Regions from separate parts of the Homo sapiens genome. Here all the other regions are linked to region 1. Evidence: fine-mapped expression QTL. A gene starts in region 1. Each other region holds a variant in brackets. All regions are shown on one strand. Distances are from middle to middle. Region 1 holds the start of FARSB (phenylalanyl-tRNA synthetase subunit beta). Region 2 overlaps FARSB (phenylalanyl-tRNA synthetase subunit beta). Region 3 overlaps FARSB (phenylalanyl-tRNA synthetase subunit beta). Region 4 overlaps FARSB (phenylalanyl-tRNA synthetase subunit beta).

Evidence for each region. PIP is the estimated chance that this variant, and not a neighbour inherited with it, causes the effect. A credible set is the group of variants that fine-mapping cannot tell apart.
Region 2: its variant is the best candidate, but not a certain one, in a credible set for the expression of FARSB in skeletal muscle (GTEx, PIP 0.58).
Region 3: its variant is the best candidate, but not a certain one, in a credible set for the expression of FARSB in whole blood (INTERVAL, PIP 0.61).
Region 4: its variant is the best candidate, but not a certain one, in a credible set for the expression of FARSB in testis (GTEx, PIP 0.75).

Annotation. Positions count from the first base shown.
Region 1 is chr2:222,653,102-222,659,314 of GRCh38, forward strand. FARSB (phenylalanyl-tRNA synthetase subunit beta) reads right to left here and starts at 2,991. Exons shown (of 17, transcript NM_005687.5): 1 at 2,915-2,991. The coding sequence starts at 2,972. It overlaps LOC124907985 (a long non-coding RNA gene), which reads left to right and starts at 3,332. Exons shown (of 2, transcript XR_007088095.1): 1 at 3,332-3,410. RefSeq lists an enhancer at 3,052-3,101 and a silencer at 3,218-3,414.
Region 2 is chr2:222,628,470-222,636,297 of GRCh38, forward strand. It overlaps FARSB (phenylalanyl-tRNA synthetase subunit beta), which reads right to left. Exons shown (of 17, transcript NM_005687.5): 6 at 5,922-6,072; 7 at 4,730-4,838; 8 at 3,135-3,205; 9 at 1,644-1,705; 10 at 368-419. Among named protein-coding and RNA genes, the nearest start is that of FARSB, 24 kb to the right of the region's middle. The variant T/C (reference allele first, on the strand shown) is at 3,600.
Region 3 is chr2:222,566,577-222,574,404 of GRCh38, forward strand. FARSB (phenylalanyl-tRNA synthetase subunit beta) reads right to left here. Exons shown (of 17, transcript NM_005687.5): 17 at 323-5,446. The coding sequence ends at 5,295. Among named protein-coding and RNA genes, the nearest start is that of FARSB, 86 kb to the right of the region's middle. The variant A/C (reference allele first, on the strand shown) is at 3,778.
Region 4 is chr2:222,619,785-222,627,612 of GRCh38, forward strand. It overlaps FARSB (phenylalanyl-tRNA synthetase subunit beta), which reads right to left. Exons shown (of 17, transcript NM_005687.5): 11 at 4,930-4,991; 12 at 4,488-4,695; 13 at 3,866-3,946. Among named protein-coding and RNA genes, the nearest start is that of FARSB, 32 kb to the right of the region's middle. The variant C/G (reference allele first, on the strand shown) is at 4,423.

The sequences.
Region 1 (6,213 bases):
AATTGAAGAGCAGTGATAATAAATCAGTTAACAAGAAAAGGAGTGGCAAGAGGAAACCATCTGCACAGAAAGTCCGTTGAAAAGGTAGACTAAGGAGACAAAACTGCTCCAAAGGAGTCAGAAGAGCAAAATAACCAAAATGGCAAACAGCTTGAAAGAGAAATATCCTTGCTAAGCAAAGAGGTGGTAAAAAGGAAGGTGGGGACTGGTAGAAACAATGGAATTTCAAATAGAAAGCAACCCTTGGAGGGACTAAAGAGAGAGAATGTGGATTTTAAAAGTGTGAATGAGACATTATCTGAAAACAAGAAAAAAAGAGGAAGACTGGGGAAAAAAAAAAAAGGTAAGAAACAAGATGTATCCATACTACTTGGAAACCACATGTTTGCTGAACATGCTTTTTCAATTCTGACCTCAACCCAGTTAACAGTTTCAAGCAAGAACACAATAAAGGTAAACTAATGAGGAGAATCATTTCTGACCTCTTGAAAGTACATCTCAATAAATAACATCAATCCTTCTGACTGAATTTTTTTTTTTTTTTTCTGAGACAGGGTCTCACTTTGTGGCCAGGGCTGGAGTGCAGTGGCTTGATCACCGCTCACTACAGCCTTGACCGCCTTGGTTTAAGCGATCCTCCGGCCACAGCCTCCCAAGTAGCTGGGACTACACGTATACACCACCACACCCAGCTACTTTTTGTAGAGACAGGGTTTTGCTGTGTTGCCCAGTCTGGTCTCCAACTCCTGAGCTCAAGCAATCTGCCCACCTCGTCCTCCCAAAGTGCTGTGATTACAAGCATCAGCCATGTACCTGGACCTTAAAAGATTCAGTAGCTAACAAACACATATTTGTGAAAAAATCAATCTTAATTGATCACTGACAATATGAAAAAAAAAGGGAAGCAGACAGAATATGTTAAAACATCAGATGATAGTAAATAGGTTATAAATCTCACCATTTTTAAAAATCTGGATTATTTCTTACCTCCCTAGAAATGGAGACTGGGATGGGAACTGATTATAGATGTTTTGAACAAATATTTGCCACCTACCATCTTAGGCAATTCAGGTATACAGACTGAGCATTCCCAATCCAAAAATCTGAAATCTGACATGCTCCAAAACCCAAAACCTTAAAGTGCAGACATGATGTCACAAGTGGAAAATTCCACACCTGACTCCATGTGACTTGTCAAAAACACAGTCAAAACCTTGTTTCATGCAAAAAAAAATTATTTAAAGTATTCCATAAAATTAACTTCAGGCTATGCATATAAGGTATATGTGAAATATAAATCAATTTCATGTTTAGACTTGGTCCCACCCCCAAAATATCTCATTATGTATATGCAAATATCCCAAAATCCAAAATCCAAGACGCTTCTGGTCTCAAGCATTTTGGATAAGGAATTATTAACCTGTACCACATCCCATTAGTGAGAATATGGTTTAGAAGGGCAGGTAAGAAATATAAATAAGCTCATTATAAAATAAAGCGATTAGGCGATTAGAGCCAAGTACAAAGGGTAAGAGTAATACAATACCCTTGTATTTCCTTTACTTTCAGGGACTTATGGCAGAACTTACGAAGAATATCACATAGAGAATAGGTACTATCTAAAAGTACACACTTAGGAAAGATTCTTAAAAGCCAGCTTTATTTTCACTGTAACAGTAATCTTATTCTGGGAAGCGGTGGCTGTCATTAAACCAATTAGGCCTTTGTTAACACACTGAGCCCTAAAAACAAAAAAAACAGCTCTCACGAACCAGTTGGTCCAGCCTTTATACAAGCTAAAAATTATGGGGTGGGGGCCGGGCGCGGTGGCTCACGCCTGTAATCCCAGCATTTTGGGAGGCCGCGGCAGGTGGATCACGAGGTCAGGAGTTTAAGACCAGCCTGGCCAAGATGGTGAAACCTGGTCTCTCTAAAAATACAAAAAAATTACTCGGGCGCGATGGCGGACGCCTGTAATCCCAGCTACTCGGGAGGCTGAGGCAGAAAATTGCTTGAACAGGGAGACGGAGGTTGCTGTCAGCCGAGATCGCGCCACTGCACTCCAGCCTGGGAGTGCAGACTCCGTCTCAAAAAATAAAAATAAAAAAAAAAATAGGGTGGGGCAGCTGCTACGGCTGTGAGGTAACTGATAACTGCATTTAATATCTCCCTCCTTTTTTTCAATGGTTGTGTTTTTAGAACTGATTAAAAGATGAAATGTAGAATGAAGTCTACACCCATTTAATACTCCCCATTCAGGTCTCAGATCAAATGTTACCACCCTATCTAAAGTTGTTCTTGGCACAACACCTTTTCTTTCCTTGATGGCATTTAACATTATCCGAAATCATTTTATTAACGTGCTGGTTAATTGTCTGCCTCCATCAGACAGAACGTGGACCTGACGTGTCGTGTGCACAGCTCTAGTCCTAAGCTCTTAGAACAGTGCCTGACACATAACAGGCGCTCAGGAAACATTAATAAAACGAAGACAGGTGGAATGCCGTTCTCCACCCCGCTGCACAAATCTCTCCTCCTACCCCCTTATAAACTGAGTTCCCACAGCGCTGCTATTGCAATTAACTGGCTACGCTCGGGATGCAACCCCGGGTTTCCTTCCTGTTCTATCCCCTGGCTTGGATGTCGGTGCCAGGCACGCTGTAGGCACTCGATGGCAGATCGCTGAATGAATGACACGGCAAGCCGGGCACAAGCAGTGGCACCGCTGCGATGCCGGTTCCGAGGCTACCACAGCCCAGCCGGACCGCCACCATCATCGGCCTTCCCGCGTAAACCCCGGCCTCCCGGAGCCAAAACCTTCAGGAAGGCATGAATGTCGCCACATTGCCCTTTTGGAGGGAGGCCCTGCCTCCGAGAAGAGGCGTAGGGCCCAACGTATAGGGCCGCCACTCACTGTAGGTGCGGCCCAGGGCTTGGAAGAGCAGATCACGCTTCACGCTGACAGTCGGCATGGTGTGTCGAACTCACTGCGCCTGCGCAGCGAGCTGACCCGGGCTTCCCTAGCGAAGCGCGTAGGACCCGCCTCTTCTTGTGCGTGTTGTCTTGAATATCGCCATTCTGCTGGCAACAGTTCCTGTTCTCTTTTTAACCTAAAAACACTCATCATGCCATTACCTCGCTGATTAAATGTATCTTTATGAGACTAATAGCTTAAAAGCCTGTAAGAAAGATATAATTTGATAGAACTGGCTAGGATTTGTCAGGCATTGTAATGTACTGACCCTGAAGTCCCGGATGCTTCCAGGGCGCTAACGGCCGGGGACGCCCACCAGGTGGGCGGGGCGAGAGTGGGGCGCGTCAGGGAGGGGGTGGGGCCTCCACGTGGGAGATCTTGCCTGGAGGTGGTGGAAATGCGAGTGGAGAGGGTTCAAGGCTTCCTGCAGAGAAAGGTGTGCAAATCCTGGCGGCGGGAGAGGGGCTGTTAACAGACCTCAGTTTTTACTTCATTCTTTAATCTCTCCTCTACTCGTATAAGTGATATACCTGTGCTTTGTTTGAACTTTACGGCAGCCCTATAAGGGAGGCATTGTAAGAGACCTCTTTTTTTGTCTATTTGCTCAGTGCTCTCTGCTGTCAGTGGGCTGTGCTCAGCCCTCTGCCAGCATTAAATTTCCTCCTTAAAACAACCCTGAGTGTAATAGGCTGAATAACGGCCCCCAATAATATCAGACCCTAATCCCTGCAACCTCTAAATGTAACTTTATATGGAAACAGCGTCTTTGCAGGTTAAGTTAAGGATTTTGAGATGAAGATTATCCTGGATTCGAAAGACGAACACTAAATGGAATCACAGTATCCTCATCAAATCATAAAAGGGAGGTTGAGAGAGACGATTTAGCCACGGTGGCAGAGATTGGAGTATGGCAGCCACAACCCAAGGATGCCAGCAGCCACCAGAAACAAAGAGACAAGCACACACTGGGGGTGAGGGGGTGGAGGAGCGGGGAGCATCAAGAATAGCTAATAGATGCTGGGCTTAATACTTAGGTGATGGGATGATCTGGGCAGCAAACCACCATGGCATACATTTACCTATGTAACAAACCTTCACATCCTGCACATGTATCCCTGAAATAAACAGAGACAAGGACAGATTCACGCCCAGCCCATGGGGCAGCCCTATAATGCATGCTGATTTGGGCCCAGTGAAACTGATTTTGGGTTTCTGGCCTCCAGAACTGTGAGAGCATAAATTTATGGTTTAAGTCAGCAAGTTCGTGGTAATTTGTTTCAGCAGCCAAGGGAAACTAATACATCAAGATAGGTACCATTATCCCTGTTTTACAGGTAATGAAACTAAGGCACAAACTGGCAGTTCCAGGGGGAGCCTTGCCCTAATCCTTTCTACTGTACAGTGAGTGAGGGCTTCTTCCAAAGTCCTTCACATGAGGGGAGAAAAGCTGAGCCAGATGTAAGCCACCCTAACTATTAATCAAGCAGTTTTTCACTATACAGTATTAGCTCCCCTCCATGGGAAGGCAGTCCCTTCCCAGTGACCAACATAACAGATTGGCAACACCCCATAAATGGCAAACATCCCCAATGCAAAATACAGCTTTCCACCTAAAATTGGTGCTTTCTGCTCAATTAATAAGCAAAGGACTAGTGCCAGGCATGATGGCTCACACTTGTAATACCAACACTTTGGGAGGCTGAAGTGGGCAGATCACTTGAGGTCAAGAGTTGGAAACCAGCCTGGCCAACATGATAAAACCCCATCTCTACTAAAATTACAAAAATTAGCTGGGTGTGGTGGTGGGCACTTGTAATCCCAGCTACTGGGGAGGCTGAGGACTGAGAATCACTTTAACCCAGGAGGCAGAGGTTGCAGTGAGCCAAGATCACGCCACTGCACTCCAGCCTGGGTGACAGAGCAAGACTCTGTCTTAAAAGCAATAACAACAACAACAACAAAATAGTAATAATAAATAACCAAAGGACTTCCTGCTGACCTGCTCTGCTTTGGGCACTCCAAAGTGTTCTGTGGCCTCTGAACCTCAGTTTCCTCATCCATAAAATAGGGATAATAATATACACCTTAAAGAATTATTGTGTCCCATATCTGTAATTCCAGCACTTTGGGAGGCCGAGGTGGGAGGATTACTTGAGCCCAGGATTTCAAAACCAGCGTGGGCAACAGAGTTGGACCCCATCTCTAAACAAAAAGAAAAATTAGCCAGGCATGGCGGCAACACACCTATGATCCCATCTACGCGGATCACTTGAGCCCGGGAGGTTGAGGCTGTGGTGAGCTGTGATCGCGCCACAGCACTCCAGCCTGGGTGACAAAGTGAGACCTTGTCTTAAAAACTAAAAAAGAATTATTGTAAGAATTTGAAATAATACTCATAAATAACTAGTATAGTTCTTATCATGTCAGAGGTCCTGGAAATGGGGCAACTGTCATTTTTTTTAATCCTCCTAGTTAGTTTTCTGCTAGTCTCAGACCACCAAGGGGCATTTTGTTCCCATCTCTCACATCCCCCAACTGACCTATCCTACTTTTTATCATTGCACATGTTACAGGTACTCTGTCCCTTCTCTGTGAGAAGCTAAACTGTTAGAAGATTCTAATGGAAAAGAGGAAACTAGGCCACTAGGGCTCATCACAAATGGCATTAGCTAACTGAAAGGAAAGGTACATGGAAAATGATGAGATCGTATATCACAAAATGTAGGTACATGCTTCTTTCATCTAACTTTGGGGCCAGACTGAAAGCAGGAATGAGGTGGCAGCATTTCCTAGGAAGGAAAGACGAGCTGGACAAAAGGCATGGAAAAACTCTCAGCTCAGCAGAAATTAAGGAGATGCAAATAAAAATTATAAGGACATACATGTTTATACCTAGGAGACTGCTAGAAGTCTTAAAGTCTGAAAAAAATCAGATCTTGGCAAGAATTTGGGAGTATAAATTGATATAACCTCTTTGGAAAATATGGCCTTACCTAGAAAAATGGGGCATGTCCATATCCTACTACCCAGCAATTGCACTGCTAGGAATATTCCCCCAGAGAAACTCTTACCCATGTGCACCAGAAGACTCAAATAAGAATTTTCATGGTTACATTGTTCATTATAACAGAAATCTAGGAACAACCCAATGTTTGTCAGTACTAGAATGGGTAGACAGTTATGATAAATGTATACAGTGAAACACCATACAGTTATGTAAACAAATGAACTACACCTGC
Region 2 (7,828 bases), 24 kb before region 1:
ACTACTCAGTTAACTAGTTAATAGAATAAATCATAGGAATTATGACCACACAATGTTGTTGTATAATGTTGTGTTTACAGCTGCTGTCAAACTGTCTGAATTTAGATCCTAGCTCTACCACTTAAAAATAATAAGCAAGGTATTTAACATCTCAAGGTCTCAGGGACTCCATCTGGAAAAAGCTTAATAAGAGCACCTACCCTCACAGGATTATGGTGAAGACTAAATCCATGTAATGCACATAGTGTAGCGCCTGGCACACGGGTGGGTAGGTAGGGGATGGATAGACAGACAGAACATGAGTGCTCTATAGCCATTATTATTAGCATTGTTGTCATAATCATGAAGTCATTTCTTAAGCACTTACTGGAAAGGTATGTGATTTTCCATTAGGAAAAACCACTTCAGCAGCTTCGACCCTGAAAACAAAAGCCAGAAATAAAATACTTAAGAAAAAAATGTGCCATAAATTACAGACATGAGTATGGTTATCAAATCTTTCATTTGGGCTACAACTACAGCCTCAACATACTCCATCTATCGCATTCCAGCACTGTTTGGATTGATCTTGCTATAAACAATAATACTCTACTGTTTCATCTCCTAGGGCTCCGATGTCCTTTTCAGGCACCACCTACTTGAAAGGTTTATTTTCCAGTACTGCAAAGCATGCATCCGACAGGGACTCCTTGCCAATACTGACACACACATTCTAGGCTTTACCAGGGCAGTGTGTTACATAATAAAACTGAAAGAATCACTGAAATGAAAATCAGTTGAAAAAAAACTGATACTGCCCATATAATTTCAATCATGCTTTCTACAGTTATATATTTATTTTCAATTATATTAATATTCTAGAATAAACTATGATGCTAGTACCAAGGACCACATAGATGTGTTAAATAGTTTTTTAAACTAAAAATATGCTTTGGAAAAAATACAGTAATCTTACCGACATGGGATACATGCTTTGCTCTTATATATGCTTCTCTACCTCTGTTTAGCTGCTCTTTTGCTGTTCCTCCATCTATATATTCTCAAATCCAATGATCCCCAAACACAGCTTAAATTTCATTGCCTCCATGAAGCCTTCTCAGATTGTATCAGCTGGCAGTAACTTGCCCTTACAAACAGCCGGAATATCACCAAAACTTTTTAAAGTACTTAATGCTTATGACTTTATCCAATATTTATGCGTATGTCTTATCTCCCTGAACAGATTATATGTTCTAGTTATAGGAACCACATTTTTAATCTTTATATTTGTTTATTCATTCATTTTTTTAAAGCCAGTGTCTCATTCTGTGACCCAGTCTCAAGTGCAGTGGCACAAACATAGCTCACAGCAGCCTCGACCTCCCAGACTCAAGCAATCCTCCTGCCTCAGTCTCCCCAATAGCTAGGACTACAGGCGCAGGCCACCAAACCCAAGTAATTTTTTAATTTTTTGTAGATATGGCATCTTCTTGTGTTGCCCAGGCTGGTCTTGAACTCCTGGGCTCAAGCAATCCTCCCGCCTCAGCCTCCCAAAGTGCTGGGATTATAGGTGTGAGCCACCGCACCTGGCCTATCTTTACATTTAGCACAAAGCCTCGCCTTCAGAACAATGGGCCATCAATAAAGGTGCTGGATGAACTTACGTAAATTGATTCTCACAATATTCACTGAACATGGTGACAATAATATCAAGAACTATTTTTGCCTGCAAAGAAAAGAAAAACAAATATAGTAATCTATAAATATATTCTCTTCACTCAGATGGAAATGAATTAATATTTAATATAATTGTGTCCTCACATCTAATGGACCTTTACGTATACATTTTAAGAAAGGAAGTGGAATAAAAACATGAGTAGGCCTAGCCTTATCTTCAGGTGTTCTGCATTTACGCAGTTCTCTGACAGTTATAATCCATGACTGAGACAAATCGTTTCGTTCCCCAACCCCCAACCTCAGGTTCACTGGGCTTCAACAGAGACAAATGGCTAATTACTGGAATAAATCTTAACAATCTCCTAAGTCTCTGAGGCCAGGCTGCTTGAATCCTGGCTCAAGCACTTATTAACAGTATGACACTAGGCAAACCACTTTTCTTACCTGTTAAGGAGATAATGAAAATTCCTATCTTGTCTGGTACTTACAAAGATTAAATAATTGGCATGTAGTAAACACCATATAGATTTGTTAAATAATTTTTCTATTTCAAAAAAAATTCTTAGAAAAAAAATACCGTGACCTTATTGGAATATATGCTTTACTCTTATATAAATATTTCACTCCTATATATACAGGCTTCAGGAAAGACATTCAAGGTCTGTAAATGCACGAATTAAATTTTTTAAAAAATTAATATTAAAAGCTGTACTACCCTGACAATATTTCTGAAGGCAAGGAGTACCTAAAAGTTATAAAGGAAATACCTTACAATGGTCTCTAATCCTATAAGATGTACATGAATACCATTTATTTGCCCTATTTCTATACTCCAGCCTTCTCCTGCCATTTGAGGTTACCTTTTTTAAATTGTTTAACTGCCACCTCATTTAACATATGTAAAGAAGTCATATGTCATAGAAAAAGCTTTCATAGCAATCCATTCCAATAGATGAACTGACTCAAAGTGGGTGAAGAATTATATTCTAGATAATTTTGTGTGCATAAACCAACCATCTATCAATTTACTAAATAAAGCTTCTTCATCGCCAGTTCCTTTTTTTTTTTTAAGATTTTAACAAGTACACAAAGGTACCAAATTACTCCGCATATAAATTAAGTCAACTAGATAAACAATTTATATGGATTTCGCTATAGTACTCATTCCATTTTGTGTTTTATAGTTACGTATATGACTAACTCTCCCCCTAGGAGTTCTTTGAAGTGAAGAGACATGTAACTCATTATTAAATTCTTGGCACTGGAAAGACATTTGGTGCTCACTAAACATTTGTCGAATTAATGAAAGCACCATAACCAAAGTGTAGAATATCTCTATCTTTTTAATTGTCTAAATTTCTAAAATATGTTCCCACCTACAAAATGCACATATTTTAAATTTTAGCCACTTAGTCTTGGTCCGGAAATAAAATCTATCCCAGCTGATCATACAAAAATTGAGTAAAAGTTTTACTTACCTTAGTAAAGTCAGTTCCCGTGCATTCAATAAAAATATTTCTAGTATTTACTGTTATTCTGGAATGATCCCCTGCAATGAACACAAAACAATAACATTAAAATAACTAATTTCAGAAATAGAAGTGCACTATTAAGCTCAACAAAACAGAAACTACATTTTAAATGTAAAACATATTAAAAACTAACACCTTGGCCAGGGATGGTGGCTCACACCCACCAGCACTCTGGGAGGCCAAAGTGGGCGGATCACCTGAGGTCAGGAGTTCAAGACCAGCCTAACTAACACAGAGAAACCCCTTCTCTACTAAAAATACAAAATTAGCCAGGCGTGGTGGCGCATGCCTGTAATCCCACTTACTTGGGAGGCTCAGGCAGGAGAATTGCTTGAACCCGGGAGGTGCAGGTTGTGGTGAGCCGAGATGGTGCAATGGCACGACATGGTGCAATGGCACGACATGGTGCAA[T/C]GGCACGAGAGTGTGCCATTGCACTCCAGCCTGGGCAACAAAAGCAAATCTCTGTCTCAAAAAAATAAAAATAATAAAAAAAAAACCTAACATCTTAAGAGCAAAGGGATAAACAACTTATATTTAAAGCTCCTACTGCAAGTTGAAGAATAAAAATAAAATAATTAACAGGCCTTTACTGAATGCATACAATGTGTCAGGTGCTATGCCAAGCACTTAACATAGGTTGTCTCCTCTAATCTTTACCACAATCCTATGATGTAATTGCTGGCAAGAAACTAAATTCAGAGAGATTAAACTATTTGACCATGATCATGAGCAGCAAGGCTAGGATTTGGGTCTAGAACTGGTTAACTCTGGGGCCCATGTTCTTAACCACTGTAACTACTAGGGTCCAAGATCTTGAGAAGAAGCTTCTCCTTCTCATAGCAAATCAGCTAAGCCTCCTTCTTACCTCCAGAAACGCAAACATCTATGTCTCAGACATCATTAAGTTTTGTAAATACATTCAAACTGCCTCATAAAAATAGCCTTCAGAAAGGAATTAAGAGGGCAAAATTTAAATTAAAAGTTTTTGTTTAACTATATAACTAGGCAAGGCCAGGCACGGCAGCTCACATCTATAATCCCAGGGCTTTGGGAGGCCAAGGTGGGAGAATCGCTTGAGCCCAGGAGTTTAAGGTTGCAGTAAGCCATGACTGCACCACTGCACTCCAGCCTGGGCGACAGAGCAAGAGCCTGTCTCAAAAACAAAACAAAAAACAACAACAACAAAAAAAAAAAACAAAAGAAAAAAAACTACAGACATGACAGAGTTTGACTTTGAGTTTAACCAAGTGAATTACTTGCTAAAACCAAAACATCAATAACCTTTGAAGAAACATAATAGAACCCAAAACCTAGCATCAGAAAATATTTATAAATGTATGAGCATAAGTTACATAAGAATCACCAATAAAATGTTGTTGAATAAATGAATGAAAAGAATGATTAGAATCTACAAAAGACCTGAGATACTCAGATTATGAGTTATTTGAATTTGATTCAGCCAAGTCTATTGAGAATTCTACAGAAATGCTGAAGATTAAAAGGAAACAGCAAAGATCTGTGATGCTTATAAAATAACTCACCATTGATGATGGGAGGCATTGAAAGGACGACACCATTGCTATCATAGATAACTGGATACAGGGGTTTGTTTTCAATGATATGTAAATAATGTTTCAGGTGATTGTCAGTCTGAAAACAAATTAAGTCAAATAAAATTAGTTTTTTTTTTTAATTTCTATCACTATAGTTCACATACTGACCTAATATTAAAAAAGAAGAGAACGCCAGGTGTGGTGGCTCATGCCTGTAATCCCAGCACTTTGGGAGGCTGAGGCCGGTGGATCACCTGAGGTTGGGAGTTCAAGACCAGCCTGACCAACATGGAGAAACCCCATCTCAACTAAAAATACAAAATTAGCCAGGCGTGGTGGCACATGCCTGTAATCCCAGCTACTCGGGAGGCTGAGGCAGGAGGATCACTTGAACCCGGGAGGCAGAGGTTGCGGTGAGCTGAGATTGTGCCATTGCACTCCAGCCTGGGCAACAAGAGCGAAACTCCGTCTCAAAAAAAAAAAAAAAAAAAAAGGAGGGGAAAAGTTAGAAAAACATTAAAACAGACCCAAATTAAAGAAAGCTCTAAATTTATAAGATTTTCTAATATAAATTAATATTCCAGTATTCAATGAACACAATTGAATCATTTCTCAAGAGTGAAAACAGATTTGCACTGGTATGCCTGAATCATTTCAAAGGAAACATAAACCATGACAAAACTATTTAGATAAATACGAAGAAGTCACTTGCAAATCAGGGCAAGGATGACCCTGCTTTTTCTAAACGACACCTATTTTTTCTACTTATTAAATACAATTCAAAGTGACTACTGAATTCATTTTCGCTGCTGGACTTTTAAATAATGGGAGATAGACAGCTTGTAACAGTATTTCCCACAAAAAACACTAGCTAAGTTTTACTGTTCTTTATACTTGCATGAGTTTCAATTGAAGATTACAATGTGGTATGGTCTACTTCAGTGGTTCTCAATCCTAGCAGTACACTGAAATCATATCAGAGGTTAAAAATTTAATAATAAATAAAATAAAACTATGTTCAGGTCCCACTCTAGATCAGATGAATCACTGTCTCTAGGTTGGAGTCCAGACACTGCTATTTTTTAAAAGTATTGATTACATTTCCCTAGTTGCAAGGCTTGACTTTGATGGAATTTCATGATTTTTGCAAAGCTGCTGCATAATCAAAAAGAATATTTACCTTGTATATGTTCATCAGTTCACAGGCTGTATACTCCTTGGTCTTATTTAGAGGCTTGAATTTGATATCTGAAGGACGCTTTGCAGTATAAGTAAATGGGCCCGACAAAGTGTCCAAATCATGGGTACCAATGGCAACCAGTGCTCTTTTCCTAATTGTTGAGAGGTTGAGGGAGAAGGAGGGAGGAAAGGAAAGGAGGAGAATGAGACAGATTTGAATATTCTAAAGCCGAAATTCTAAAGATAACATAAATATAGACTACATATTTTTTTTAATTATTTCAGATACTTCCCTGAAACAGCATATTGCTACTACATGGCATCATTAGTGGCATATAATGAACAAATTCTCACAACCATTAAGAGTACTGAGAAATCACAAAACTACCTGAAATACATGATTTCAGGAGCTGAAGAAAATTCCTTGCCATTATCTTTTCCCAAATATTGTTTCTAGGATATCTTCAAAGTTAGCATTTCCTTTACCTCTTTTAACCTATTTCTTCTTGATATACTCAAGTAAACATGTTTTAATAAATTAGAACGAACTATCGAATTGTGGGTTTTTTGGCTTTTCTATGTTTTCCTAAATTTTATCACATAGCTGCATTACCTTAGTCATGGAAAAAATTTAATTTTAATTTCAACAGCTCTGAATTACAGTTCAAGTTTACTTTAATGTATAAGGAAAGTTCAAAAGGTATTCATTTCACTTGTTCTACAGTTTATCCACAAAGGATTTAAGGTAATTTTAGGAAATTACAGCAAGCAACAAAATAGGAGAGAAAGAAATAGAAGTAGGGATGTAAAACCGAGCCAGGAAATGTTAATTCTGAATTAGAATCTAAAAGCCTAAGTCTTACCAGGAAAGGACACAAGTTTGGCTTTCTAACAGTCAATTTGAAAGGAGGAACTTGGTCAAAATTTGTGTTCTTAACATTCTTTAGTTTAAAGTGTATGTGCACTAAATTAGTTTAAAATGCTTAATATTAAATTTTGGTCAACTTCTAGGACTGCAGGACTGGTGAACTACAACTTTAATAAATAGGGTTAAAAAGAATTGCTAACAGGCAATAAGGGAGTGTTACTTTACTCAATTAGTCATATGCTTACAGAAGATAATAAACCCAGAACTATCATAGGATAAAATATGCATGGTTTGATAAATGCAGGTAAATTAATAATTGACAAATGCACAGGTAAGAAAGTCTGTCTTCTTAGATATTAACATTGGTCCCTTAATCCTAAAACAGTACCTCAAAACATCACCAAAATTTCAACTTCAAATCAGCAACAAAAAAACGTAACTCCAGATGAATCAAAGACCTAAGCATTTTGAAAAGCAAAAGACAAACACACAGGCACACATACAAAAGACACCATAAAAATTATTCAAAGAAAATACAGAGGCCAGGTGAGGTGGCTCACGCCTGAAATCTCAACACTTTGGGAGGCCAAGGCAGCAAGACTGCTTGAGCCCAAGAGTTCAAGACCAGCCTGGGCAACATGGTGAGACCCCATCTCCACAAAAAATGTAAAAATTAGCTGGCTGTGGTGCCACACACTTGTGGTCTCAGCTACTTGGGAGGCTGAAGTAGGAGGATCACTTGAGCCAGGAAGGTCAAGGCTATAGTGAGCTGTGATTGCACCACTGTAGTCCAGCCTGGGCAACAAGGTGAGACTCTGTCTCAAAAAAAAAAAAAAAAAGATAAGAAAATATAGAAGAATATGCTTAGGCCGCACGCGGTGGCTCATGCCTGTAATCCCAGCACTTTGGGAGGCCGAGGCAGGTGGATCACAAGGTCAGGTGATCAAGACCATCCTGGCTAACATGGTGAAACCCCGTCTCTACTAAAAATACAAAAAATTAGCCAGATGTGGTTGGCGGGCGCCTGTAGTCCCAGCTAC
Region 3 (7,828 bases), 86 kb before region 1:
TTCAGTGTCTTTTTATTAGTGGCTAATTAGGAAGGCTAAAATGATCTGTGTTTAGTGTGCACTGTGCATAATTGGCCCCCCTCACAGTGGCACCCATCAGGTTTCCATGTGACAGAGATGCTGCAGACTGGAAGCCTAGGAGGCTTCACTCCTATCTGCGCTCATGGATACAGGTAGATTAGGGAACTGCTACAGACTGTCCCAGAGGTGTACTGCTGCCTTGAATTTTATCATGCATGCCACTCTCTACTTTTTGAATGCAAGTTTTCAATAATGTGTTTTAGTTTGCTGGGACTGTCACAACAAAAGACTATAGGCTGGGTGGCTTCAATAAAAGAATTTTATTTCTCACAGTTCTGGAGGCTAGAATTTCAAGATCAAGGTGCCAGCAAAATAGGTTTCATTCTGATCCCTCTCCTAGCTTGCTGGTGGCCACCATGTTGCTGTGTGGTCATATCACCTCTTCTGTATGTGTGCGCCAGGTAGGCAGAGAAACAGAGCAAGCTCTCTGGTGTTTCTTCTTATCAGGCCACTGAGCCTTTCATGAGGGCCTCCCTCTCATGACCTCATCTAGCTCTAATCACCTGCCAAAGGCCTCATCTCCAAAGACCATCACACTGGAGGTCAGAGGGTCAACATGAATTTGTGGGGATACATTCAGTCCATAATAATATACATAAAGTTATTCAAGGCCCTAATAACATAATAAGCCAGAACTTGGATATCAGATGGGTCAAAGGCTTTCAATGCTTAGGAGGCATATTCTGCTTAAGGCAATGGTGTCCCTTGAAGGCTATCTGTTTGCTTTTGGATAAAATGGACAGAAGGGCCAAAGTAAATACTCAAGTATTAGGGTTAGTGATGTTATATAAAACACCAAGCACAAATAGATTAAGATTGAGAAGCAAGATTGTGAGTAATGTTCTCTCTTACCAAGCTGATGAGCCCATCATTGCTGAGAGCAGGGGCAGTGGTTAGGCTGGCTGGTTTGTAGTAGATTACTCCTGTTTAAAATGTGAGAACAGTCATTCAACATGTTTTAAATTCAAAACACATCCTTTGACCTAGCGACTTCTACATCTAAGATGTAAGGTACTGGAATAATATATAGTTCAAGTACAAACGTCACATCAAAGAAATATCTAATGAACTCTATGCATCTCTGAATGTGTCTGTCAAATGTGGATATTTATACAGTCTTGCACCCATTAGGACTGGTTTTCCTTGGGGTCCTAAGCCAGTGCTATTTAGCAGGATAGGGGGTTCATTGGAGCAGTGTTTATAATTGCAAACAGTTGGAAACAACTGAATGTCCACCAACAAGGGAATAATTGAACAATTACGGACATCTGTACAATAGAATATTACCTCATTTAAAAGAATGAGATAGGTCTATAGGCACTGACCTGAAAAAATGGGGCATATTAAGTGAAATGTCATGAGATATATGTAAAATAAAAAACAAAACTTGTTGCAAACCAGTAAGTAGAGCATGACCCCCAAAAATGTGAGCAGGTGTGTGTGGCTGACTGTACAAATCAAGGAAAATGTCCAAACTAAGGAACAATACAGGCTAAATTGTTAACAGCAGTTAGTTACTTCAGGGAATCAGGAGGAAGAAAGGTAGATTAACTCAGTAAGGCCACAGTTTGCAGAGTTTTTTTAAAGTATTGGACTTAACAATTTTTAACTTTTTGTCTCCCATTATTTTTATATTTTTAAAAAGTGTAGAAAGTCCCATTATTTACTTTCGCATAAATAAGTAAATAATGCAAATCAGTGAGTGGTCTGTGGACTCCAAGTCACTCTTTTATAGTGTCTCAAACTCATTTATTGGCTATGTGACTTCTGAGTAAGTTATTGATCTCTCTGAAACTCAACTGTTTTCACCCTACACATCAGGGAGAATTCCTACTCTCATACCGTTATTAAACCAAAAAAATTAAAATGTGAAAAAAGATCAATTCAAAAATAATTTAAAAACAGAAGAGCAGGCTGGGCGCCTGTAATCCCAGCACTTTGGGAGGCAGAGGTGGACAGATCGCCTGAGGTCAGAAGTTCGAGACCAGCCTAGCTAACGTGGTGAAACCCCGTCTCTACTAAAAATACAAAAATTATCCAGGCATGGTGGCACACACCTGTAGTCCCAGCTACTCGGGAAGCTGAGGCAGGAGAATTGCTTGAACCCAGGAGGTGGAGGTTGCAGTGAGCCAAGATTGTGCCATTGCACTCCAGCCTGGGTGACAGAGCGAGACTCCGTCTAAAAAAACAAAAAACAAACAAAACTAGAAGAGCACTGCAGGACTGTGAGGCTGTAGTGGTAGAATTTAAGTTTTTTCTAAGCTAGAACAAAAATCAATTCCATTTAATTTTCACTTTAATACTAGAGCTCCCAGTTTTTACTAAGAAGGTGTGCATCTTCTGTAATAAAGGCTTTTGGCAGTACTCACAGACTGCCCTGGCTCCAGTTCAAATGCTTCACCAGGGACAAGTGTAAGATGATCTGGCTGCAGAGCCTCGACTCATGAGCTGGATTCGCTTCTTCCAATGCAGCCGACACTGTTTTTCTGCCTACCATTTCCTGCTTCCGAGGGCAGAAACATCTACATGATGCATGGAGTTGATCTTTCCCCTTTCATGCTGGGATATACAATTAGGCATTAGTGGGTTTTTCATTACAAGTAATTTTGGCCACCCCCAAAAATATCCAGGTGGGTAGCTGCTGACAGAACAAATGGTTCCACCTACTTCAACAAGGGCTATCATATGATGATCCATAAGCCATGATTTTAACTAGAGCGAACCTGAAACTAAGGGAGAATATATCATTAATAGCTGTGGACCAGTGAGCCACCTTGAGCACAACTGCCAATTCTACAGTTCAGGCTATTTCTCTAGGCATTTATCAACTGGTGTTATGTAGTTAAAATCAGTAAAATACTACATGTTACATTACATTCTTTTTCTCCCAGCTTTACAAAGGTATAACCTACACCTGAAGTACACCTACCACCTCAATTAAGATAAAATTTCCATCACCCCAAAAAGTTTTCTCTTAACCCACTGCAGTCAGTTCTCTTTCCTGAGGTCCTGCCGACCACCTGCTTTTGACTTTTTTAGACTCTCAGGTAAATAGAATTAAATAGAGTCTTTTGTGTCTCTTGCTTTCACTTAGCATACTGTTTTGAAATTCATTCATGTTGTTTTGAGGATCAGTAGTTCATTCCTTCTTATTGCTGAGAAGTATTTCATAGTATGGATATACTGCAATTTGTAACTACTATAAGTAACACTGTGAACACTTGCATAAAAATCTTTGGCCATATGGGTAAACCTAGGAATAGAATGGCTAGATGGTAGGTGTATGTTTCAAGAGACTGCCAAGCTGTTTTCTAAAGTCACAATGTAACATTTTACATTGTGACTCACCAGCAGTGCATGAAAGTTCCACTTGCTCCAGTCTCAGCAGTATTTGATTTATGAATCTTAAATTTTAGCCATTTTAATGGGTATGCAGTTTGTCATTGTGAATTTTAGTTGCATTTCCCTGATGACTAACGATGTTGAGGATCTTTTCAAGTGCTCATTCATATGTCATCTTTTGGGAAATGTTTGCTCAACTCTTGCACATTTTTAAAAAACAGTTGTTTTATTTTTACTATTAAGTTTTATTATTAAGTTTTAAGAAATCTTTATGCATGCTGGATACAAGTCCTTTTGGCATGCATTATTTTTAGAGGGCATATTTCATTTTTAAAATGTTGTAAGGATCTGCTT[A/C]TAACAGAGCTGTGAAGGGTCAGCTGGAAGTGTGTGTGTTCACAAATCTTACAGAGTTAGACACTGCTGCCCCAATTCAAGGTTGTAATATGGTCAGGTTTTCTCCTAGTAGTAGACTCAGCAAAAGATCCATAAACATAATTCTTATTTCACTATCTTTGTTAGCTACTTCTTCTTTTTTTTTTTTGTAGACAGAATCTCACTCTGTCACCCAGGCTGGAGGGCAGTGGCACAATCTGGGATCACTGCAACGTCCACCTCCTGGTTCAAGAGATTTTCCTGACTCAGCCTCCCAGGTAGCTGGGACTGCAGGCCCACACCACCATGCCTGGCTAATTTTTATATTTTTAGTGGAGATGGCATTTCACCATGTTGGTCAGGCTGATCTCGAACTATTGGCCTCAAGTGATCTGCCCACCTCAGCCTCCCAAAGTGCTAGGATTACAGGCATGAGCCACAGCGCACCCAGCCTTTGTTAGCTATTTCTACTGGGACTTTAAAGTATTATATTTTATCATATTTCTTATTACTTCAATAGTACCTGGGAACTTGTCTCAAACATGAGACCCAGCTTTTTTCCAGAGATGGTACCTACTGGAGAATTCTAGATTGAAGTAAGAAAGGAAATTAGGATATAAAACAAGGAGGATTGGCTGAAGCTTAGCTTCAGAAAAAGAGAGGTCTAATATCTCCCTGGGACAATAGAGAAACTAGTAGCTCAATTAAGTATTTAAAACCATGATTTTATAACTGACTGATTACAGTAACATGTATGGCCTATGGCAAAAATAAGCTTCTCATTGTTTCCTAATGTTCATACTGCATTGATATCAATACTTGTCCATTTTAACTCTTACAGCAGAACAGATCTTTGTTGCATGTACTCTATCTTAGAGTATCACAGATAGAGTAAAAAATACCTATGCACCCTCACATATTTTGAATCCTTGTATTACAGATTTTTCTTTCACTTTAAACTGACCTCAGAAGCTATAATTGTTGGACCATAATTGATTCTTAAACGTTTTCTAAAAATATTGTTATTTTAGTGTTTCTCAATGATGAATACATGTCAAATGTAGAAAATCAAAGCTAAACCCCTCAGTTATCTCGAACTCATGCAACATGAATTCTCATCGATTATCTTGTTTTATCAATAAGGAAAGAAATGGGATCTTGTTATGCAGGAGTAATCCGTTCCAATGTGATGTTCTGATGTCTGAGGAGCACGTCTGCCTTTCAGAACAGATCCTGCACTCTGCTAGTGCATTTCTCCAGCACTCCACGGGGCTTTTACCCAACAATGCAGCTTCACACACAGACACCACACTGGTATATGGCACAAGCTGGCCTAATATGCAGGGAAAGGATGGTCTCTACCCACACAGCCAGACAGTGCTTTCTACTTTATTAAACATCAAAGCCCAAATAGATGTTCCCTGTGGAGGAGGACTTAAGGACACTAGGGGAGGAGAAAGGGACACCTGGGAAGAGAATCACACCACAGAGACCAATCTTCACAAAAAGGGTCCAACATTGATTTCTAGGGAGGAGCAGGGCATGGTCAGCTCAAATTTGGTGATAACGTCAGGATGAAGGACCCCAAGCTTCCCGACGCTTTGACCCCTGGCAAAGATCTCTGCACATCGCCCGGGGAAGAAAGCAGGCCCTGAAAAAGAGAAAGTAAGAGAAAAATCAATGTTTCTTCTGGCAAAACATCAATAGACATTTAACACTAAAAGCCCACTAGTCTACTTTAAAAATAACTATTCTTTAAATCACTGGCTATGAAAAGAGAACGCTTCCTCATACTTTCTAGTATTTAAAAGAAGGATTTGCTATCAAGAAACTCTTGCAAGGAAAAAATCCGGGGCAAATATGAAAATAAGGGCCCTGTATTTTTGGTAACAGGGACCCGAGCAGGAAGGATGAAATCATGGAGGCTGCTGAAGGTCCACAGTCAGAAGTCCTAGGGGAACTCTGCCTGCACTTGGAACTGGTCCTAAAAAGGCCAAAAGGAAAAAAATGAAACATAAAACTGATGAACTTAATGGGAAGAACCTGTTTTCAAACAGGTTTTTCCATAGCAACGCTCACTGGATAAGACATCGACACTGAATTCATTTGCTCTGTACAACTCTTCCTCACTCTTTCTCACCTTATTACATAAAGAAACTGGAGCCGCCGTGTCATAGGCCGGCTACTGGGGGAACCACACCTCTGATGACAGGCCATGCTACCAGAAGGCAACCCACATTCCCATCTGAAAAGAGCTTTCTAAGCAGTTCTGAAGCATCTACTGTAAAACCACAGCAAAGGCCAGCCTAACACAAGTCTGGGTTGATGCCTCATTTACTTCAAGACAGGCAGAAAGTTCTCTTTATCTGGGTGCCAATGCACTGATACAGCTTACCAAGGCAGTAACAGTTCTTGAGATTTACAGAGCTAAAAATGAACATATGGGCCCACTCCATATTCATGAAATTACCAGTGCCACAGTAAATTATCAGTGTTCTGTACTCTTCTGAAGTTTACAAATATGCTGACTCACTGCTCTCACCACCAACTTGAAAAGGGATCAGGCCTGCAGCTCCTGACAGATTCAACAGAAACATTTACTGGCATAAACTATAAACACCCATGCAGAGCTGGGCCACAGTGTCCAGCCTGCCACTTCAGAGTGAGTGCATTATTGATGAAAGAGTAAACTGCTGAGTCTCTACTAATGGTTCCAAGGTCAGCATGCTTAGGAAATACAGAATCAGGTTGGAGGGGAGGGGAACCGGCTACTGTCAAGTTAGTACCACAGAGACAAAGGACAATTACATATATTTCTTGACCAGCAGAGAAGGATCTTTGTTTATATTTCTGGGGAAAGAGCTGGAAAATATTCTAAATTGTCATTCTTAAGTAAACCCAAAGCAACAGAGGTGAAATATTAAGGTGGCCTCTTTTTCACATCTCTCCAAACTAAACAATTCTGCCTCACTGTCTTTTAAAGCAAGAATTTCAGTGACTGCATTTAACTATCTGGCTCTGCACACTAATCCACACTTGGGGTGAGGGATAGGGAGGGAAACCAAATAAAACAATGCAGAAACCAAACCCAACTAATATTATAGAGCCTTAGTTTCATATTAATATGAATATTCACATTCATATGAATATTACTAAATCTGATAAAGATGGCACATTTTAATTCTATCAAAATAAATGTCTAACTTAAAAGACAAAACTCTCCTCCCCTCGACTCCCCAAAGGAGAAGAAAAATCTTCAAATGACATGTAAGTGAAGATTATATAAGGTGTTGATGGTAAGCAATATAATCAAGAACTGCAGAACTGGAAGGACTGCTGGGAATTATTTATCCCAGCACCCCAGCACCCCTATACAGAGCTAGACTTGAATACAACCACACTACCTGAAAAAAGACACCAGCTTGCTGTGGTTTTTATGAACTTTTATCTTATTAATAGATTCAACGGGTACGTGTTCAAGTTTGTTACCTGGGTATATTGTGTGATGCTGATGTTTGACACCAGTCTATTTTTAAGGGACACTCAGAAAGGCAATGTTCAGGATCTTCCCTGATAACTTTACTGTGTTTAAGAATCCTCATTGTACCAAAATCCATCCTTTCATCTATCTTCAATTCCAATTTGATTGGTTTCATTTTTACAAGCATAAAACCAAACTATTTTGGAATCTAAGCCAGATGTGCTAGTTCTAACAATGTTAGCAAAATAAAGCCTAAGAGATAAGAGCTTAGAATTTTTACTTCATAAAACAACTTTTCGAATCAGCACTTTTTTTTTTAGCAAAATTCAGTTATATTCTTCTTCAGTTGCCAGATCTACCTCTCTCCAGAAGTTGGGATCAAACTTTGCTTTAGCTCATTAATCAGTTAGGTACTTGATCAGACAAAAAATATTTGTGTCACTAAGTATAATTTTCCCTCTTTCCAAAGAAAAGCAAAAAAGAACTAAAATTCATACTATGCTTTATTTAAAACATATCCAAGCATATGAGTATTCTACATAACATAAATAT
Region 4 (7,828 bases), 33 kb before region 1:
AGTTTAAAATAAAAAGTAATGCTGTAAGTCAACTTCTAAGAGCAATTTATATTCTCTACACATATCAGCAAGTTAAGAATAGGCCTGGTGTGAGCTGAAGTAAATGTAATAATAATAATAATAAAAAACAAACAAAAAAAGAATAAGCTAACAATAAATACACATCAATCTCAGGCCCATAGCAGATGGAATTTAACATTAATACTTCTTTCACAATGAGTCCTAGCCATCATACAGAGCTAAAGTAAATTTTTCACATGGAGATGGTATAAACTGTACTCGGGCCCTTCCTAAGCTAGTTTCCCATTTACCTTTCCAATCTAATCTCCCATGATGCCCTAGCCATTCCCTAAACCTTATGTTTCCCTACCTTACCTGAAATGTCCTCCCAGCCTCACCTGCTACCATTCCCTAAGGCTGACTTAAATGACCTCTCTTCCATAATATTCCTAATGACTCTAGTCAGAAACTTTCTCTCCCTCCTTGGTATTTCATGACTTTCCATTTTGACTACCATTATAACCCTTGCTAAATCCATACTGACTTGTGGCAGAACAGTAGGACTGACAACAGAATTCAAGTGACTGGAACTCTGCCCAGTGTTCTTTACTGTATCACTTAACTTCTGTGCACATGCCTGAAACTCATAACAAATAAACTGCTGAGTACCCACCAATCGAAGAGAAAGATGCTTGCCACCCTCAGAAACCAGCATTGTAGGCAGAAGTTATGAAATTAAAAACTCACTGACGATTAGATACATCAAGTCTAATAATAAATGATATAATGAGATAATGCAAGTATGGTGCCTGGCACAGAGTAAGCACTCAAAAAATACCAACAATGATGATAACTGACAAATCATTACTAAGGATAAATTATTATCATGTATATTAATGCTAGCTTTTTGAAAAAGCATTTAAAACGTAACACAAAAACTGATGTACCATCAGATTATTGTACTATTGTCCAATGTTAGGCAATATTGTTCATTATGCTGTTCTACAACTAGTTTTCAAAGGCTAGTTGGCCTGTATTTCACTTATTAAAACAAAATGATACACATCAACTGAAATGGTAAAAAGAATTCATTTCATGTCAATGTCAGTTCTAGTGATTCTTGCCATGCTTTCTTGAGAAAGATCCTGAAGCCACATCCAGCCATAGCAGAAAACAGCTCCCGGATCTGCTACAGCTGCTGAGATGGAGAATGGTGACATGCACACTGGGGATAAGCGTTTTCCCCACAGCATAAAGAAGTTTTACAGCAAGACTTAGGTATAATGTGACTGATTAATTATGAAATGCAACTGACATGAAGCAATCTATTCTCAAATGAAACTAGTCCTCTCTGTGTAAAAGAAAAACACTCTGCAGACACATGGCAACGCAGCTGTGTATCTGAGTGAACTTGTATTTTATCATGGCAATGGATAATAAGGGATAGTGACAAGAGGCAATTTAAATTAAGCTACCCTGAAGTGGCAGTAGTTAGTACACAGTAAGAAACTTTTTTTTGTTTGAGACAGAGTCTCACCCTGTCGCCCACACTGGAGTTCAGTGGTGCAATCTCGGCTTGCTGCAACCTCCACCACACCCGACTAATTTTTGTATTTTTAGTAGAGATGGGGTTTTGCCATGTTGGCCACACTGGTCTCGAACTTGTAGCCTCAAGTGATCCGCCCGCCTCGGCCTCCCAAAGTGCTGGGATTACAGGCATGAGCCACCATGCCTGCCAGGAACTTTTTTAATGTTAATATTTATGTGTTTATTTTAATGTGTTAGAAAAATACAACAAGTAAATGAACCTTATAGTTTTTACAGATATTATTCCTATAACAAGGCTGAAGTACATAAGCCAACTTAAAAGTGAGCCAATTTAAAAGAAAATATTACAACTACTATGCAGATATAGCAAAAATCAATATGATGAAGTGTGAATTATTTACACTTAGAAAGTCAGAGACTAGGCTTAAAAAAATGGCTGTTACTCTTGTGCAAAACTGGATTTAACAACATAGACCATCTTTGCTCAGCGATGCTTAGGCTTGCCTATAAACATCTTTATAAACATCTTTAATGTTGAAATTCCTACAGGAAAATTTAGTACAAATCTGAAACCCTCTAGGAGCTCACTCCTTTCTCTTCCCCCCAGTGATAAACATTGAATGTATTAAAGTGACTTTGGACAGCTAAACAGACTGTTTCTAACATCCCTGGTGTGACAGTTCAGTCACAGGCCTTGGATGCAGACAGGCATGGGCGGGAATCCCTGATCCACAGCCATGGCGTAGGACAAGTTACTTAAATTAACTGCTGTGAAAGACAGGAATGCCCACTTCACAGGAGTATACTGAGAAGAAATGGAATCATGTACACAAAGCCCTTGGCACAGGGTAAACATTCCCTGCAGAGCAGCCACTAGTCAAGACTCGGCCTCTGTGCTCCTTCGAAGACACATGAGGCTCTAAGGTCACAAAATCAAACTGGCAATGGATATTGTAATAAGTATAAAGTATAAGTATAAAAAGGATAAAGTAATAAGTAACTTTTTTCAAACTGGCACCACTAATATAAAAGGGCAGGGAAAAATGCATACCCAAGTTTTAACAGCAGTTGTTTCTGGGGAGGAAAAGAGGATTCGAAGTGGGGAAAAGAACTGTTATGGTTTAATCTACATGGTTAAAGTATGAGTCCTTTAAAATAAGATGTATTCCTGTGACACTCATATGTTTTAAAAAATAAAAATATATTTTTCAATGTTATTTTTGGTACTTCATTTTATATGAAATCCTGGATGCTCACAACTACAAATGTGTGTATATATATGTGCAAAGATGAATGACATGGCATTACAGACCTAGTGTACACGGTATGAGACCATGGAAAAGCACTGTTCTAGGAGGCTAAAGGTCAGGACCCTGCTCATGATATAATGAGATCATGCAGGTATGGTGGCCTGGAACACAGCAGTTCTCCTGCTGTCCGTGTAAAATGTGCTACGTACTTATCCTCTCTCAGCCTCAGGCTTCCTCATTGGTGCAGTGCCTGACATATAATAAATGCTCAACAAATGTTGAATGAATGACTCCTGAATCAGAAAAATCTTAATGCTTAATATTTATTAAGCAAACTAGAAGTAGAGTCCCTTAAATACTCTAAAATATTGAGAATTTCAGAGGTAGGGCTAAGTTGCAGGGGAGAAAAAGAAGAAGCTTCCTTTCCCCTCATAGATTAAACATACTTGAATGCTCAAGAACTACATTGCAGGCACCACAGAAATGCTCAGCAAGAGGGAAAAACGGAACTACAAATTGCATACACATTTTATTCTTTCAAATGGTCAATCTGGTGGGGGAGGGAAATTTCCTTCTGATTTTGTAATAAAAGTCATTTCCTGATTTAGGCCTTTTATGTCAGCTTTTCAACTCAAAGCAAATGTTTGTGAACATGTTCAAAGACAAAGAAATTAATTTAATGTGGAACAGTCCACAAGCCTTTACCCAGGACGGCATCTAGTGGGCACAGCCATAACCAAATTAAGACCAAATATTCTAACTTAATAAATTTGGTTATGAAATACATTGTGAACTCTCAACACTCACATGAAACTATAAAATACTTTGTCATCTCTCATTTGAGGTATTTTTTTCTAGGCCTTCATTTTCTTTTGTGGCTGTAAAAACAAAAGCTTCAACATTACTTTACCAGGAATTGTATAATCTCAAGTAACAAAGTTATTCTTCCAGAATCTGGAAGTTCTAACAGTCTAGATTTTATAAATTCTTATAAAGCATCATAGAATAAATAATTCAGAGAGTCTAAGTAAATAATCATCTGGGCAGAAAAAGCATGTAAGACATACCAGGGCAAAGGTAAGTGCTTCAGTGAAGCCAGCGGCTGCCATGTCATGTCGGAGAAGTTCAGTGAGCTTATTAAGAGGAAACTGAAAAAAAAAGCATCCACTTGATTTCACCGCAATTATTTCTTGTTTTTTAAAAGGGAGATTTATACAGAACATGCCATTAAAACTTTTTTAAATAAAAATGTTTAAAAGATTAAAAACCTTTTCACCCTTACTAACGTACTGCTAATGCCACTATTTCCCTATCAATATTACCTCCTCCCTCCCCACCGCTCTGCCACCCCTCTGCTCCTACACAGATGTACAAACCACCCCCACTTCCATCTCTCCCACACACAGCTTCTGCCTTCAGGCCCAAGTTGAGAAAATGAATCTCTGAGAGATTCAACAAGGGCTCCAAACTCAAAACTTGTCTTTCTTCAAAGAACTAGTCATCACAGGTTTTCAACTTACTCTAATCATTTGGGCATCTGTTTTGTATCCTCTCCACAGCAAATGCCTCTCATTGCAGAGCATGTCCAAATACTGCTTGATTCCTACGTTCTGTTTTCTCGAAG[C/G]CTTCCTGGCATTAAATAATCAGTTTCTAACAATAAGGAGTGTTTATTTAAGGGTGCAATCTTACTTGATTAGCTATGGTGTAAGTTTTCGGGAGAGTCATCTGAATGTTGTTATATCCATAAGCAATAGCTGCATCTTCTACAATATCACATGCATGGATAATGTCAGCTCTGGTTGGAGGGATTTCAATCTCAATCTGATTCCCATCACCTATGACTTCTGATTTTAAATACATCCTGGTCAGAAGTTTGGCAAGATTTTCTGGAGTTTCTCTGAAAAAGGAATGAACAAACCATAAACTTCATTGGATTATTTTTTTAATGTTTACATTGTGTTTCAACATATGCTACTAGCTGAAACAGTAACCTTTCTTTTTGAGTTCTATCAGAAACCAGATATCTTAACTGATGTTTTATCATTCCTTAACAGACTCTGAAGGATCGCAAAAAAAAAATTAGTCATACGTGTACTTTGTTCTTGAATTAAGTGAAGTTTTCAGAGCATACCTGATTCCAACTTTTTTGTTAATTAGGTCAGCTCTCACCATCTCCTTTCGGTAAGCTAATTCCTTAAATAGAAAGAGTTTAAAAAGTAAATCATTTCCCATCAGATACAGCTTTAGAGTCTTTTCCATTAGTCATTATTGCAGTTCTATTACGTTCCCAAGAAATTGTCATTAGAGCCACACATTGAGAATAAACTTGATGTTTCAAAAACAGTATTATGAGGGATAAATTTGCTATATTAGATTCATATATGAACATTCTACTTGCTAGACAGTTTGCACTGCCTGGAAATAATATAAAATGCCAAACAATTTTCCCTTTCAGATAGTCATTCCCCATTCCCCACAGTAAAACACTGTTGTGCTACATCATTCCAAAGACGTTTATAAATCCTGCTAAAGATTTTCAGTCTCGTCCTATGCAAGCAGATGGATATGACCAAGAAAGAGTAATTCCAATATCACAGTGTCCATCATACTAAGTCTAAGAGCATGATGAAGATATTCCTTTCTTACCATTTCCAGGTGGAGAAATGCAATGATGAATTTGGTACTCAGTCTCCTTCAAACAGTATATAACTCCACCGTATTAGTGAGGTGAGAACACACACACATAAATCCCAGGCTTTTCAACACCTTTGGAAATGTCCTTATGAATATTTCTTATCACTCATTCACTCTCAAAAGTATAACATGCCACTAGCAAAAAGGCCATAGATTTTAAAACCTGTTTTGATTCAAGTAAGGCAATGGTCTGGAACCTTGCTACTCAAAATGCGGTCCTCAGAGCAGAAGCACTAGCATCACCTGAGTGCTCGTGAGAAAGGCTGACTGCAGGTCTTGATAGCTAGTGGCAGTGACACCAGAGCTACTGAAGCCCAATCTGCACGTTTTCAAGATCCCCAGGTGATGAGAATGCACTGCAGGGTTTGGGAGGCACAAGGTGAAGATTGCAAAGTAATAATAACTTTTCTCAATAGTTACTATGACCTAAACAGTTATTATGAGCTGAACAGTACGAGATGCATTTTAAAGATAATCTTACTTAATCCTCACAACAGATGCTATTAGTATTCTCATTTGACAGGTAAGGAATTTGAATTTTAGCTGAATAACTAGTTCCAGGTCAGAATAGTAAACTGCCAAGTCCAAGTGCTGCTATATGCCCAGTGCTTATTATCTGATTATCAGATAATAAGCGTTTGGTATATGTATTTAATAAGTGAATGTATGCATACAAGAAGTAACAAATGGCTGGGCGTGGTGGCTCACGCCTGTAATCCCAACACTTTGGGAGGCCGAGGTGGGTGGATCACCTGAGGTCAGGAGTTCGAGACCAGCCTGGCCAATGTAGTGAAACCCCATCTCTACTAAAAATACAAAAAAGTTGGCTGGGCATGGTGGCACAAGCCTGTAATCCCAGCTACTCGGGAGGCTGAGGCAGGAGAATCGCTTGAACCCAGGAGGTGGAGGTTGCAGTGAGCTGATGCTACTGCACTCCAGCTTGGGTAACAGAGCGAGACTCCATCTCAAAAAAAAAAAAAAAAAAAAAAGAAGTAACTAATGAACAAATTAATGAATTAATAAATTAGGACAACCTAATTCCAAAGTACACACCATTAACCATTAGTCTGACTACTGACAACTTATCTCCCCTAGTTCTCTTATTTTAAAACTTTATTTTTTTCTATGAAATAACAAAACACAAGAAAAAAAATTTTCAGAGTTTGAGAAAATATGCTATTTCATGTGAGAAAGAATCAGTTTCCCCCAGAGGATCCTTCCCTAAGAAAAGCTGTTCTAATTTAAGTTTAGGAGGAAATAAATGAACAAATGCCAAAACACTCATGCAGTACTCCTTTTCAGAAAGCCCACCATTTCAAATTTACAAAAGGTCTCTATATTACAAATAAATGATTTTAAGGGTTTATCCATATGAGGAGAAGAGTGAACCAAATATTAAAATATATTTCTCCTTTTCTTCCCAAAAATATATAATCACTTTTATTAACACTTGACAAATCATCATATTGAAAAGAGGCTGGATGCGGTGGCTCACACCTGTAATCCCAGCATTTTGGGAGGCCAAAGCGGGCGGATCACAAGGTCAGGAGATCAAGACCATCTTCTCTAACATGGTGAAACCCCATCTCTACTAAAAATACAAAAAAAAATTAGCCGGGCGTGGTGACGGGCGCCTGTAGTCCCAGCTACTCGGGAGGCTAACGCAGGAGAATGGCGTGAACCCAGGAGGCAGAGCTTGCAGTGAGCCGAGATCGCGCCACTGCACTCCAGCCTTGGCGACAGAGGGAGACTCCATCTCAAAAAAGAAAAAAGAAGAAGAAGAAAAAGAAACTTTTCTCTGGCATTATTTTAAAACCATCTAAAAAGCTATGTCCAGCTAATCCCAATTGCTACTGTCATAAACTGCAAAAATGGCCACAAATTTCTCCCCTCTCTGTATCCATGGCCTTGCAATGTGACACTGCCAATCTTCCAATCAGGAGATGACATCTATTTCTCCACCTGTCAAATCTAGCCAAATGACTGGCTTTGGCCAACAGAATAATGTTTGAAAAATGCCTGGGCACTGGGCATGCTCTCTTGCTGCTAGGAACCCTGCAACCAACCCCAAGTCAAAAAGCCCAAGCTAGCCTGCTATATGATGAGGGACATGTGAGTTGTTGACCCCACTGCCAAGAAGCAGACGTGAGTGAGGCCATCCCAGATCATCCAGTTGCTAGCCAACCAGTCAACTGACTACATATGGGTAAGCCCAGCAGAGATTAGCCAAACTTGCTCAGACCAGGAAAACCACCCTATTGACCAAAAGAATCATGAGATAAATAAATGGTTGTTGTTTTAAGCCACTAAGTCTTGGGGGTAGTTTGTTAAATAAC